Homo sapiens: one gene and its partner. The protein of the gene in region 1 purifies or fractionates together with the protein of each later gene. This does not show direct contact. Each region holds a gene or a part of one and is shown in the gene's direction. Other genes may lie near its edges.

Region 1 (7,418 bases):
TGTCTGTCAAGTGCATAACATGTACCTGGTGCATGTTACAAATAAATGTTAACTGTTGCCTTTTAGATCCTTGTAGCAGACCTGCAAGATGGGCAAAACAGTCAATTATTTATTTATTTATTTTTGAGACTGAGTTTCATTCTTGTCACCCAGGCTGGAGTGCAGTAGCACCATCTGGATCTTGATCTCGGCTCACCGCAAACTCTGCCTCCCGGATTCAAGTGATTCTGCTGCCTCAGCCTCCCAAGTAGCTGGTATTACAGGCACCTGCCACCACACCCAGCTAATTTTTGTATTTTTAATAGAGACAGGGTTTCACCTTGTTGGCCAGGCTGGTCTCAAACTCCTGACCTCAAGGTCATCCAGCTGTCTCTACTTCCCAAAGTGCTGAAATTACAGGTATGAGCCACCATGCCTGGCCTCAATCAGTTATTTATCCCTGACTGTATCTATGGAAAAATGTGAACACATTTTTCCCTTCTGTCTGGGTGAGCGTGTGGGTCACCCACTGTCCAGCGGTTCTGTACTAAAATGCGAATGTTCCACGGGTGTGGTGGCTCATGCCTATAATTCTAGCACTACGGGAAGCCAAAACCGGCTGATCCCTTGAGCTCAAGAGTTCCAGACCAGCCTGGGGAACATGGTGAAACCCCATCTCTACTAAAAAAATACAAAAAAATTAGTCAGGCATGGTGGCATGCACCTGTAGTCCCAGCTACTTAGGGGGCTGAGGCAGAAGGATGGCTTGAACCTGGGAGGTCGAGGCTGCAGTGAGCAGACAGCCACTGCAGTCCAGCCTGGGTGACGGAGTGAGACCCTGTCCCAAACAAACAAGAACCATTCTAGACGAATCAGGATAAGTTGATCATCTTAGAATTGAGGCTTCACTAACAATAACTGTGACTTTGGGCAAAGTTACTTCACTTGTCTGTGCCTCAGTTTTCTCATTTGTAAAAGAAGGAGCACAATGGTAACTACCGTGATGGGTTTTGGGAGGTCACAGTAAAATGTTCTATGAACAGACCAGGTGTGGTGGCTCGCGCCTGTAATCCCAGCACTTTGGGAGGCCGAAGCGGGTGGATCACAAGGTCAAGAGTTCAAGACCAGCCTGGCCAAGATGGTGAAACCCCATCTCTACTAAAAATACAAAAATTAGCTGGGCGTGGTGGCAGGTGCCTGTAGTCTCAGCTACTCAGGGGGCTGAGGCAAGGGAATCGCTTGAATCTGGGAGGCAGAGGTTGCAGTGAGCTGAGATCATGTCATTGCACTCCAGTCTGGGTAACAGAGCGAGACTGTCAAAAAAAAAAAGTTATATGAACAGTGCTTAGAATATTGTTGTTCCCATAGTGAACACTCAGTGCATGTTCCCTGTTATTGCATATAAGTTTGGTCACCAGAGTGAGAAACCTTGGCTGCTGGAGCCTAACAGGTCTGAGTGAATCCTTGTTTATTTTATTTATTTATTTTATTTTATTTTATTTATTTATTATTATTATTATTTTTTTTTTTTGAGACGGAGTCTTGCTCTGTCTCCCAGGCTGGAGTGCTGGAGTGCAGTGGGGTGATCTTAGCTCACTGCAACCTCCACCTCCCAGGTTCCAGCGATTCTCAAGCCTCAGCCTCCCAAGTACCTGGGATTACAGGCGCCTGCCACTATGCCTGGCTAATTTTTGTATTTTTTTTTTTAATGGAGTCTTGCTCTGTCGCCACGCTGGAGTGCAATGGCTTGATCTTGGCTCACCGCAACCTCCGCCTCCCAGGTTCATGCAATTCTACCTCAGCCTCCTGAGTAGCTGGGACTATAAGCACCTGCCACCATACCCAGCTAATTTTTTTGTATTTTTTTTAGTAGAGACCAGGTTTCACCATGTTGGCCAGGCTGGTCTTGAACTCCTGACCTCAGGTGATCCACCCACTTTGGCCTCCCAAAGTGCTGGGATTACAGGCATGAACCACCATGCCTGGCCCTAATTTTTGTATTTTAATAGAGATGGGGTTTCACCATGTTGGCCAGGCTGGTCTCAAACCCCTGACCTCAACTTATCCGTCTGCCTCAGCCTCCCAAAGTGCTGGGATTACAGGTGTGAGCCACCATGCCCGACCCCACCCCCTTTTTAAATAAAAATCAGTATCCTCATGACATCCCACATTGCCCCTTTGATGACAAAAGAGCAGCATCTCTGACAGCATCCGTGTGGCATCTCGCAGTGCGGGAACCGTAACCAAAGTATCGGGCTTTGGAGTGAGACAGGACTGGGTTCAGGTCCCAGCTCTGCCACATATAGTCTTGGGCAAGTGGAGTAAGCGCTCTCTGTGCCTCAGTTCCCTCATCTGTAAAATGAGAACGATAGTGCCCACTCCATGGGGTTGGTAGGAACAAAGAAGATTTTGGGCATGTAAAGTTCTTAGTGCCGAGTGCACAGTGGTCTGTAAGTGAAGCTGCGGTTCTTAGTGGTAGAAGGAGCTGATTGATGGCCCTGGCTGAGAACTTTGTGTTCGCTTTTTCCCCTTTTAATTCAGGATCAGTTACAGTTGTGGATTCGAGGCAACGTGAGTGCCTGTGCGAGGTCCATCTTCATATTTGATGAAATGGATAAGATGCATGCAGGCCTCATAGATGCCATCAAGCCTTTCCTCGACTATTATGACCTGGTGGATGGGGTCTCCTACCAGAAAGCCATGTTCATATTTCTCAGGTAAGGTCAGGGCTAGGACATGATGGATGGGCCCCGAGCCCAAGCCTCTGAGCTCCAGGAGAAAACCCTGTCCTTACCCACTGGGATTGTTTTGCAGCAATGCTGGAGCAGAAAGGATCACAGATGTGGCTTTGGATTTCTGGAGGAGTGGAAAGCAGAGGGAAGACATCAAGCTCAAAGACATTGAACACGCGTTGTCTGTGTCGGTTTTCAATAACAAGAACAGTGAGTAGGGCCATCCACCGCCAGTCCCATCTGGTTCCTAATCCTGCACCCTAAGTGTTAAAAGCATCAGGGTCACTGTCAGCATCACCTGGGAGCTGGGTAGAAAGAAATGCAGATTCTCAGTCCCCTTCCGAGTCATGAGGGGAATCTTTGCTGATGAACTCCAGGTAACTTTTATGAACACTAATGTTTGACAAGTGCTGTTTTATTTTTATTTTTCAGATAGTTTTACTCTGTCACCTAGGCTGGAGTGCAGTGGCGTAACCTTGCCTCACTGCAACCTCTGCCTCCCGGGCTCAAGCGATTCTTGTGCCTCAGCCTCCTGAGTAGCTGGGATTACAGGTGCACACCATGCCCAGCTAATATTTGTATTTTTAGTAGAGATGGGGTTTTGTCATGTTGGCCAGGCTGGTCTTGAACTCTTACCTCAGGTGATCCGCCCACCTCGGCCTCCCAAAGTGCTGGGATTACAGGCGTGAGCCACTGTGCTCAGCTTATTTTTTGAGACAGAGTCTCACTCTGTCACCCAGGCTGGAGTCCAGTGGTGTGATCTCAGCTCACTGGAGTCTTGACTTCCTAGGCTCAAGTGATCCTCCAGCCTCAGCTTCCCATGTAGGTGGAACCACAGGCTTGCGCCACCATGCCTGGCTAATTTTTTTTTTTTTTTTTTTTTTTTTTTTTGGTAGAGACTGGGTCTTCCTATGTTTCCCAGGCTGGTCTTGACTTCCTGGACTTAAGTCATCCTCCCGCCTCAGCCTCCCAAAGTGCTGGAATTATAGGCATGAGCTACATACCTGGCCTGCTGTTTTTTTTTTTTTTTTGAGATGGAGTCTCGCTCTGTTGCCCAGGCTGGAGTGCAGTGGCGCGATCTCGGCTCACTGCAAGCTCTGCCTCCCAGGTTCACACCATTCTCCTGCCTCAGCCTGCCGAGTAGCTGGGACTACAGGCACCTGCCACCACACTCGGCAAATTTTTTGTATTTTTAGTAGAAACGGGGTTTCACCATGTTAGCCAGGATGGTCTTATCTCCTGACCTCGTGATCCGCCTGCCTCGGCCTCCCAAAGTGCTGGGATTACAGGCGTGAGCCACCACGCCTGGCCAGTTCCCCCATTTTCTTCAGCTACATGATTTTCTTTGTAGAAGAAAGAGCCAGTGGTTGAGCAAGGAAGGATGCCGTGGGCAGCTCAGGGGGAGAGATGACCTGTTAGTTCCTCCCTTTCTCTGCATTGCCCAAGAGCAACAGCCAAATAGCGGTTCGGCCCTTATTTTGTACTGGGCACCGTGTGAAACAGCCTGCCTGCGGATTTCACTCAGTCTTCACCATACCTCGCAGGGTAGAGACTGAGACTCAGAGATGTGGCAGCTTGCCCAGGGCCATGCAGCCTGTTCGGTATCTCTGATTCTAAAACCTGAGCTTTTAAGTTTTAGCTCACTACTTCTCCAAATGTCATGAGACCTTTGACCTTGAACCTGGGGAGGTGGAAAGCCAGCCTGATGGAGGCTGACTCACTGGCTAAGACCTGTGAGTTGTGCAGGGCTGGCTGTTCAAGTCTTTGCGCTTCAGGTTCTGGAGATGACAAAACAGAAGGGCTCATTTGAAACAGACTTGCCAAGAAATTAATCCTACAGTTAGTGAACAGCATGGGGTACAGTATGTCAGTGTGTGCAAGTGGAATACTACTGAGGAAAGACAAGTATTTTGTAACATGTTGGATAGTTTCTTGCCTTGCCAAAAAACATGAGCACATGCAGTGGAAACTTTAGCCTAATGCTGAGGCAGATGAGCCCCGTGGCCTAGAATCCACGCTGTGGAGGTTACACGGTGCTTAGGAGTGCCAACCTGGGAGTCGGGCAGCCCTGGCCCACAGACTGACTGTGACCTCAGGCAGATGGCTGAACATTGATTCAGCACATGTATATGGAGCATCTGGTAAGTGCCAGGCATCATACCTAGGACGGGGGACACAGCAGTGAACAAACACAGAAATTCTTGCCCTTATCAATCCTACATCCTAGTGATAATAAAGAAAGAAAATGTATCAGATGATGGGGGATAGATATGTTGATGTGTGTGATGTGTTTGTGTGTATACATGCAGTACATATGCACACATCGCACATGTACACATGTGGACATATAGATATCTTTCCCCCCGGGGCCAGTAGGGGAAAAAAATCAAGAAAGGCTTTGGGGTTCAGGGTAAGGATGGGCTCTGCTTTAATAGAGTGGACAGGGAAGGCTCCCTGTGAGGGTGGCATTTGGGCTGACCCGGGGGAGTGAGCCATGTGGATGTCTGAGGGAAAAGCATTCCCCAGTGCGGACAGCACGTCCAGGGGCCCGAGGGGGGCCTGTGCTTGGGGTCCCTGTGACTGGTTGAGGATAAACAGAGGAGGGAAACGGGAGGTGATAGAAGAGGCGAGATTTGGGGTGGAGGTGCAGACCGTGGGAAGCCTGGCGGGCCATGGTGAACCTTGAGTCTTATTCCAAGTGGAAGAGAGAGGCCTGGAGGGTCCTGGGCAGGTGGTGCTGTGATCTGACGGGGCCTTCACAGGACCTTGCTGGCAACTGGATGGAGGACAGACCCACAGCCACAGGGGCAGGGAGCCCAGCGTGGAAGCGGTGGGGGTGGAGGGACACGGTTGGCTTCTGGGTGTGTTTTGAAGGTAGAACCTGTAAGACTTCCTGCAGAATTGTATATGGGAATGAGAGAAGAATCAAGGACCTGGCTTGAGCGATGGGAAGGGTGGCACTGCCATTGAAGGGAAGGGACAGCAGGAAGGACGGGCGAGCTCAGTGGGCAATGGCATCAGGGCATCAGAGCAGAGCCACGAAGCTCCAGGGAGGCCATCAGGCCAGGAGGGCAAACTTGGGAGTCCTCAGGAGATGACTGTGAAGTCTCAGGGCTGCCTGAGGTCACCTGTTCTGCCGTCACTCCTGGGTCTGCGTGGCTGGGTCCTTGTTGCTCGGGCTCTGCCCTGAGGTCCTGCCCAGCCTGCTCCACCTCCCGCTCTCCATGTCCGTTCTGCTGTGTGGCATTCGCCACTCCAAGCACCATCTGAGATTGTTTCCTGCCCTAGAGTGGTAAAGCCGTGAGGTCCGTCTGCCCTCAGCTGTGTCCCCAGGCCCAGGGCGTGCCTGGCACAGAGCAGGCCTCTGAGAACCAGCCTCCCACGTGAGTTCATGATAGCAAGACAGCCCCTCGTTCCCATTCAGTGGTTGGTTCTGTTCTTTCCCTGGCCATAGGCTCCACTCTGTCAGTCAGCCACACATTTATTGAGTACCAGTTGTGTGCAAAGCACTGTTGGGCATGAAAAGCATTAACCCAGTGAATGAGGAGGAGCTTGGGTTGGGGACGGAGCCCCAGAATTACATGGCAGACCAGAAGGGAATCAGCTCAGTAGAAGACACGCATGGGCTCGTGGGCGACGCAGTGTGTGCTGTGTCATCTGGGGCTGGGAGGAAGTGTCCTGGGTCAGGAGTTCCAGGAGCCCAGGAGGAGTGGACGGGTCAGTGCAGAGCCAGCCCGCATTCAGGGGAGAAAACACGGCCAAGGCCAGGCCTTCACGGGGAGCCCAGCGTGGGCTGCACATCTGCACTCTCCAGGCTAGTTTTGGTGCCCACATGCTCTGCAGGGTCTGGGCACTGTGGCAGCGGCAGCAGGCTTCCCTGTTGCTAGTCCAGCTGCTGAAACTCCAGGGAGAGTCAAAAAGTTCCCAAATACAGAGGCGTGGCTGGTAGTCCTTCCCGGGAATTCTTCTTGCTTCCCGCTTTCTGTGGAACTCTGCCTTCCCCACTCTGCCTCTCTGCTTGTTCCTGGGCCCCAGGACCTCTTTCCCATCTTCGATCTCTTAAGTCATACCTTGGGAGGCCTCCCCCAGCCCGCCGTGTAAAGAGGGCTGTCACAGCTTCTGCTGTCACAGAAGCATTACAATGTGCAGGTGCCTGTTAACATCTGCCTTCCCCACTGATCTGGAGCTCCACAAGGGAGAGGGCACACCCAGTAGGTATGTGTGGGATGGATAGGAGGGTGGATGACACCCAGTAGATGTGTATGGGATGGATAGGAGGGTGGATGACACCCAGTAGGTGTGTATGGGATGGATGGGAGGGTGGGTGACCCCTAGTAGATGTGGGGGGGGTGGGTGGGTGACCCCCAGTAGGTGTGTGTGGCATGGATAGGTGACCCCCAGTAGACGTTTGTGGGACGGATGGGAGGGTAGGTAAGTGACCCCCAGGAGGCGTCTATAGGGCAGGTGGGTGGATGTGGATGAACAGCACCTTGTTTCTTCTTCCCAGGTGGCTTCTGGCACAGCAGCTTAATTGACCGGAACCTCATTGATTATTTTGTTCCCTTCCTCCCCCTGGAATACAAACACCTAAAAATGTGTATCCGAGTGGAAATGCAGTCCCGAGGCTATGAAATTGATGAAGACATTGTAAGCAGAGTGGCTGAGGAGATGACATTTTTCCCCAAAGAGGAGAGAGTTTTCTCAGAT
Region 2 (7,418 bases), on another chromosome or scaffold:
CGTTTTAATAAATTGGAGGTTTGTGTAATTTCAGTAACGTAATAATACCAGCTCTATTAAAAATGAAGAAATGGACCTTTTGTACTGGGAAGTAGTTGTAAGTCCACGTATTTGTCTTCTCACTGGTGTATATGTGTAAGCCCAATAATTGTGTTAGTTTATGTAGTTTCTTGTTTTTTTTGTTTTTTTTTTTTAGTGTCTATAAGTCAAGTCTTTGGTGTTAAAGATTTTAACTATCATTTGCTGTAATTCTTAGAAAGCCGAGGGACTAATCATTTATGTTTCGTGCATAAGGAAATGGGCGTTAGCTTCCCCAAGACCCCAGGAGCCAGGCATTGTTCTTACCCCAAAGCCTCAGGTCAGACTTCTGCTGCTTCACGTTAGAAGTCATGATCTTTTGTATTATGGTAAAGGGAGCTTGGAAAATTAAGTACTTTTAATTCCATTTAATGTTTCTTTCAGTCTTGAATCCAGATAATAGTTTTGAAATACTGGTTGACCAATCTGTGGTGAATAGTGGAAATCTGCTCAATGACATGACTCCTCCTGTAAATCCTTCACGTGAAATTGAGGACCCAGAAGACCGGAAGCCCGAGGATTGGGATGAAAGACCAAAAATCCCAGATCCAGAAGCTGTCAAGCCAGATGACTGGTGAGTCTTGGGGAACTGTCTTCAAGTGTAAGGGAGCATTTCATATATTCCATGTGGCTTGAACAACGAAATGTTGGTTGAGTAAGCTCTGATAATTTCAGTAATCCATGATGCAGTCTAATCTGTAGGGAAAATATAGAGTACTATAGCTGGAAAGGGGCCATAGTGTAATCATCTGGATTGACTCACCATTTTACAAGCCACAGAATGCCACACTTGATAAGAGTTTGTCTGTGGTGACACTGTTGGTTTGTGGCAGAATCTCAGGTCCTTTAACCTGGCTACTCCAGGGCTTCTGTGAACTCACATTTAAAGCCAAAGTTCTGAAATGCTAAATTTTAATTTGAAAAATAACCTTTTTCCTATTTAAACAACAGTCAATTCTCTGCTGTGGGTTGGGTGGTAGAATACAAAGCCACAAGGACACCACCATCTGCCTACACAGAGCTTGAAGTCCAGTTGTGAGGCATGATGTTGGCATGTGGTATCGTAAGGGTTCATGAGAAGGTGCCACAGGAGACCAGAGCACCAGGTGTACCTAAACTAGGCATGGTTTCTTGGAGCAAGGCAAATCAGATTGAGACTTGGCAGTGAGGTGAGAATTAAGGAGTTGGTGAATATGGGAAGGGGTGTTTCTGATTGAAGAATGTCGTATGCAGAAGTAGAGGAGCAGCAATGAGCTTGACATGCGAGGGAGAAATTACATGGCCTTTTATGTAGGGTGCACATTGAAGAGTGAGGAGAAATGAAGATAGCTGGGGCTGTATTCTTGTATATGGCTGTCTTTGAACTTGCAACTTCACACAGTGACTCCAGAAATGTCAGAAAGTGAACAAAGAAATTCTTACCCTTTGTAAAATATCCTCCTATGCTTAGCAATTACATTCTAGATTATCTTTTTCCTCCTTGAAAGGTAAGATACATATAACTGAACTTTTGTACTGCACTAGTATAAATGCCAAGTTTACTTGTATATTTGGTGTATATTAGATTTGGACTTAGCCTTGTTCAGTATTATATTCCTTAACTAGCTTTATCACCTAAGAAGGCCCCTGTACCCATTAAGCGGCCACTCCCTGTTTCCTCCCCCAACTCCCAGCAACCACTAACCTGCTTTCTGCCTCTCTACATTTGTCCACTTTGTATATTTCATATAAAATGGAATCATACAGTATGTGGCTTTCTCTGTCCAGTTTCTTTCATTTAGCACAGTGTTTTCCAGGTTTATCTGTGTTGAAGCATGTATCAGTACTGCATTCCTTTTTATGATTGAATAAATTCTACTGTTTTGATAATGCCACATTTTATTTATCCATCCTTTGGTGGACATTTAGGTTGTTTGCTCCTTTTTGTCTGTGATTATGAATAATGCTGCTATGAATGTTCATGTACTGGTTTTTACATAAATATGTTTTTTCTTTTCTTGCTTTTTTTTTTTTGAGATGGAGTGTAGCTCTGTCGCCCAGGCTGGAGTGCAGTGGCGCCATCACGGCTCACTGCAACCTCTGTCTCCCGAGTTCAAGTGATTCTCCCGCCCTAGCCTCCCAAGTAGCTGGGATCACAAGCGCATGCCACCACACCCAGCTAATTTTTGTATTTTTAGTAGACACGGGGTTTTACCATGTTGGTCAGGCTGATCTCGATCTCCTGACCTCAGGTGATCTACCCGCCTCAGCCTCCCAAAGTGCTGGGATTGCAGGCGTGAGCCACCACACCTGGCCTCTTTTCTTTAGACATGATCTCTGTGTTGCCCAGGTGGGAGTACAGTGGTACGGTCACGGCTCACTGCAGCTTCCACTTTCTGGGGTCAAGCGATCCTCTCCCGCCTTAGCTTCTCAAGTAGCTGGGACTGCAGGTATGCACGCCTGGCTAATTTTTATGGGTTTTTTGTTTGTTTGTTGAGACAGAGTCTCGTTTTGTCACCCAGGCTGGAGTGCAGTGGCACGATCTCGTCTCATTGCAACCTCTGCCTCCCGGGTTCAAACGATTCTCGTGCCTCAGCATCCCAAGTAGCTGGGACTACAAGCGTGCACCACTGCACTCGTGCCTCACCCTCCAAGTAGCTGGGACTACAAGCGCGCACTACTACAAAAAATTCTTGTATTTTTAGTAGAGATGGGATTTCACCATGTTGGCCAGGATGGTCTCAAAATTCTGATGTCAAGTGATCTACCAGCCTCAGCCTCCCAAAGTGCTGGGATTACAGGCGTGTGCCACCGTGCCTGGCTGTGCATGTTTTTTCTTTTTTTTTGAGACGGAGCTTCGCTCTTGTCGCCCAGGCTGGAGTGTAGTGGCGTGATCTTGGCTCACCACAACCTCTGCCTCCCGGTTTCAAGTGATTCTCCTGCCTCAGCCTCCTGAGTAGCTGGGATTACAGGCATGTGCCACCACGCCCAGCTAATTTTGTATTTTTAGTAGAGATGGGGTTTCTCCATGTTGGTCAGGCTGGTCTCAAACTCCCGACCTCAGGTGATCTGCCCACCTTGGCCTCCCAAAGTGCTAGGATTACAGGCATGAGCCACTACACCTGGCTTAATTTTTGTATTTTTTGGTAGAGACAGGGTGTCGTCATATTGGTCAGGCCGGTCTTGAACTCCTGTCCTCAGGTGATCCACCCGCCTTGGCCTCCCAAAGTGCTGGGATTACAGGTGTGAGCCACCGCACCTGGCCTTGTGTATTTTTTTTTTTTTACTAGAGACTGGGTTTCACCTTGTTGCCCAGGCTGGTGTGGCCTCAAGTGATCCTCCTGCCTTGGCCTCCCAAAGTGCTGAGATTACAGGCATGAGCCACTCTGTCTAGCTATAGATATATATTTTCATTTCTCTTGGGTATATATACCTAAAAGTGGAATTGCTGGGTCATGTGGTAACTAACTTTTTGAGAAACTGCCAAACTGTTTTCCAAATGAGCAGTACCATTTTACTTTCCCACCAGCAGTGTATGAGGGTTTCAGTTTCTCTGCGTTCTTTCCAGCATTTGTTTTTATGAGTCTTTTTTATTAGAGCCAACTTGGTACTAAGTGGTATCGTTTTGATTTGCCATTTCCCTGATGGCTAATGATGTTAAGCATCTTTTCGTGTGCTTATTGTATGTTCATATTGTATATTTTTACATTCGTATGTCTTCTTTGGAGAAATGTCTATTAAAATCATTTGCCCATTTTTAAATTGGGTTGTCTTTATATTATTGAGTTGTAAAGAGTTATTTTACTAGGCCCTTAGCAGATATATGATTTACAAGTATTTTCTAAGAGGAATTATTTTAAATTTTGAGATTAAAAACAAATTTTTTTAGAATACTCTGTTCTGATCCACAAAGTGGTACTATACTGTGACCAGTGTTGTCATAACTGGCTTTTTCTTTTGTATTTAAGGGATGAAGATGCCCCTGCTAAGATTCCAGATGAAGAGGCCACAAAACCCGAAGGCTGGTTAGATGATGAGCCTGAGTACGTACCTGATCCAGACGCAGAGAAACCTGAGGATTGGTAAGAACTTCAGTTAACTTTTTTTAATTACCTGGTTTTTTTGTTTGTTTTTTTTTTTGAGATGGAGTCTCACTCTGTCTCCCAGGCTGGAGTTCAGTGGCGCAGTTTCGGCTCACTGCAACTTTCACCTCCTGGGTTCAAGTGATTCTCCTCCATCAGCCTTGCGAGTAGCTGGGATTACAGGTGTGTGCCACCACACCCGGCAAATTTTTGTATTTTTTGTATTTTTAGTAGAGACGGACTTTCACCGTGTTGGCCAGGCTGGTCTCAAAGTCCTGACCTCAAGTGATCTGTCTGCCTTGGCCTCCCAAAGTGCTGGGATTACAGGCGTGAGCCACCACACCCAGCATAAGTTACCTGTTTTTATTGAAGTCAATCTTAATACTTAAATATAGCCAAGTTCCCTAATTTCAGGGTAGAATTTGACAATTTTAATTATATTTTCTTCTTTTTTAAAAAATAAATTTTTCCTGAAAAACTGTTATTACTGGAAATACAGGAGAAGCTGGTCTGGGATACTGTGAAAACATTTCAGCAGGATCTTGGCAGCCCTGGGCCAGCCAGCTGTTCATAGTCCTGCATCACAGAACCTGTTTATAATTTGTTGTTTGTACCTCCGTAGGGATGAAGACATGGATGGAGAATGGGAGGCTCCTCAGATTGCCAACCCTAGATGTGAGTCAGCTCCTGGATGTGGTGTCTGGCAGCGACCTGTGATTGACAACCCCAATTATAAAGGCAAATGGAAGCCTCCTATGATTGACAATCCCAGTTACCAGGTTTGTGCCTCTTGATGGTTGAGTTGCTTTCATTAATCTGTTTGTATTCAGATAGAAGTTTTATCTAGAGTAAGGCTGCCAGGTTGGTCATTATATTCAAGCTGTTGAATTAAAAGCAGAAAGTAGACTTCCTAAGTTGAAAGAGAGCTTAATGGGTTAGGTATTGCAAAGATAAACCTAGAAACTGGAGTGAATAACTTTCTTTAACTTTATTTATTTATTTATTTATTTATTTATTTTTGAGATGGAGTTTCGCTCTTCTACCCAGGCTGGAGGGCAGTGGTGTGATGTCGCCTCACTGCAACCTCTGCCTTCCGGTTTCAAGCGATTCTCTTGCCTCAGACTCCCGAGTAGCTGGGATTACAGGTGCCTGCCACCACGCCTGGCTAATTTTTATATTTTTAGCAGAGATGGTGTTTCACCATGTTGGCCAGGCTGGTCTCGAACTCCTGACCTCGCGATCCGCCCACCTCAACCTCCTAAAGTGCTGGGATTACAGGCGTGAGCCACTGCATCTGGTCAACTTTCTTTTTTTGAGACTGAGTCTCACTCTAGTGGCCAGGCTGGAGTGCAATGGCTCAGTCTCGGCACACTGCCACCTCCACCTCCTGGGTTCAAGCAATTCTCCTGACTCAGCCTCCCGAGTAGCTGGGAGCACAGGTGTGCTCACAGGTGTGCTCACCTCACCTGGCTGATTTTTTGTATTTTTAGTAGAGACGGGGCTTCGCCATGTTGGCCAGGCTGGTCTCGAACTCCTGACCTCAGGTGATCCACCTGCCTTCGCCTTTCGAAGTCCTGGGGTTTCAGGCGGGAGCCACTGTGCCCAGCCAAGAATAACTTTCATAGTTGCTTTGTAACTATATTTAAAAACAAAAGAGAAATGGAAAACTGTTGATTTGGGTACCCTGCTCTTGGGTGCTAGGGTTGCTTCAGCCATAGGATCCACAGCTGAGTCTGGACAATCTGTGATGTGGTGGGTAGAGGACTGTGGTTTGAGTCAGCATCTTGACTACATCAAGTCAGCTCACTGCTTGGCCTCAATGCTTGCAACTATAAAAAGACTGAGGCCCAAAAGAGATGGTAAGGATACAAGTAGTAAGGTTGTGAGGCTTTAGGCCTCATGCAAAAATGTACACCCTCAGACCTTTGTTCCTTTTATCTTTCTAGCCAAGTAAAATTATTTATAATCTCTACAAAGAGTGGCAATTAAAATTATTTATAATCATTAATTTCTACTTTATTTATATACAAATACTAATATATGTATATACATATACAGAAACAGGAGAAGCTGGTCTGATACTGTGAAAACATTTCAGCAGGATCTTGGCATAGTATATGTATATATACATATACTAATATATGTTTTTCTGTTTGTAAATTTTTTATTTTTTTCCTCATAGTCGTTAAAGATGTTATGTGAATGTATTTTTAATTGTGTAGTCAAACAATAAGATAAAAGTTTTACTTTAAAAAAGTTGCCCTTTAGGCTGGGCGTAGTGGCTCACGCCTATAATCCCAGCACTTGAGAGGCTGAGGTGGGTGGATCACCTGAGGTCAGCCATTCGAGACCAGCCTGGCCAACATAGTGAAACACCATCTCTACTAAAAGCACAAAAATTGGCCTGGTATGGTGGCACACACCTGTAGTCCCAGCTGCTTAGGCACGAGGCTGAGGCACAAGGATCACTTGAACACAGGAGGCAGAAGTTACAGTGAAAAAGAAGTTGCCCTTTAGTTGTTCTCCTGTTGGTGGCCATTTAGGTGGATTGTCACTTTTGCTTTCAGAGTCACTGCTGCTGTAATAATCCTTGTACATGTCTGGGTGTATGTTGTGAGTATTTCTCTAGGTAGTTATCTAGAAGTGAATTGCTGGTTGATGATCATGTGCGTTTTATTTTAAATCACCACTGAAGAAGTACGTACTGACTTATGCTCCCACTCTCATTAGCAGTTGCTAAGAGTGGAGGCTGTTGAATGGGCCAGGAACTTGAGGGGTTGGTTTGGACCAAGGTCATGGGTGACAGTAGAAATTGGAAGTAGTTGGAATCCTGCAGTCTTAGAGGCAGAGTGCGTAAAATAATCTGTAGCATTTGTTATTTATTTTCCTGTTGCTTATTTCAAGTTTCATGAAGTTGGCATTTCTCTCCATTGTTCATGCAAAATTTCTCTTACGGTAGATTCACCATAAACTTTTGTTGATCATTATCTGAAATGATTTTCTGAAACATTTTTTTTTCTAGGGAATCTGGAAACCCAGGAAAATACCAAATCCAGATTTCTTTGAAGATCTGGAACCTTTCAGAATGACTCCTTTTAGTGCTATTGGTTTGGAGCTGTGGTCCATGACCTCTGACATTTTTTTTGACAACTTTATCATTTGTGCTGATCGAAGAATAGTTGATGATTGGGCCAATGATGGATGGGGCCTGAAGAAAGCTGCTGATGGGGCTGCTGAGGTTCGTGTTTGCTGCTTGTGCATTTGTGTCTGTTATTGTAA

Evidence for each region. The genes of interacting proteins can lie anywhere in the genome.
Region 2: the proteins of TOR1A (region 1) and CANX purify together in Homo sapiens (affinity purification with mass spectrometry; 5 studies listed by BioGRID and IntAct, with this or other methods). This does not show direct contact.

The regions. Positions count from the first base shown.
Region 1 is NC_000009.12:129,814,023-129,821,440, reverse strand, and holds part of TOR1A (torsin-1A precursor), read left to right. Parts: intron 1-2,520; coding exon 2,521-2,696; intron 2,697-2,793; coding exon 2,794-2,921; intron 2,922-7,218; coding exon 7,219-7,418. UniProt on the Homo sapiens protein: Protein with chaperone functions important for the control of protein folding, processing, stability and localization as well as for the reduction of misfolded protein aggregates.
Region 2 is NC_000005.10:179,715,643-179,723,060, forward strand, and holds part of CANX (calnexin isoform d precursor), read left to right. Parts: intron 1-256; coding exon of another isoform or gene 257-358; intron 359-462; coding exon 463-652; intron 653-4,025; coding exon 4,026-4,139; intron 4,140-4,761; coding exon 4,762-4,918; intron 4,919-7,161; coding exon 7,162-7,377; intron 7,378-7,418. UniProt on the Homo sapiens protein: Calcium-binding protein that interacts with newly synthesized monoglucosylated glycoproteins in the endoplasmic reticulum. It may act in assisting protein assembly and/or in the retention within the ER of unassembled protein subunits.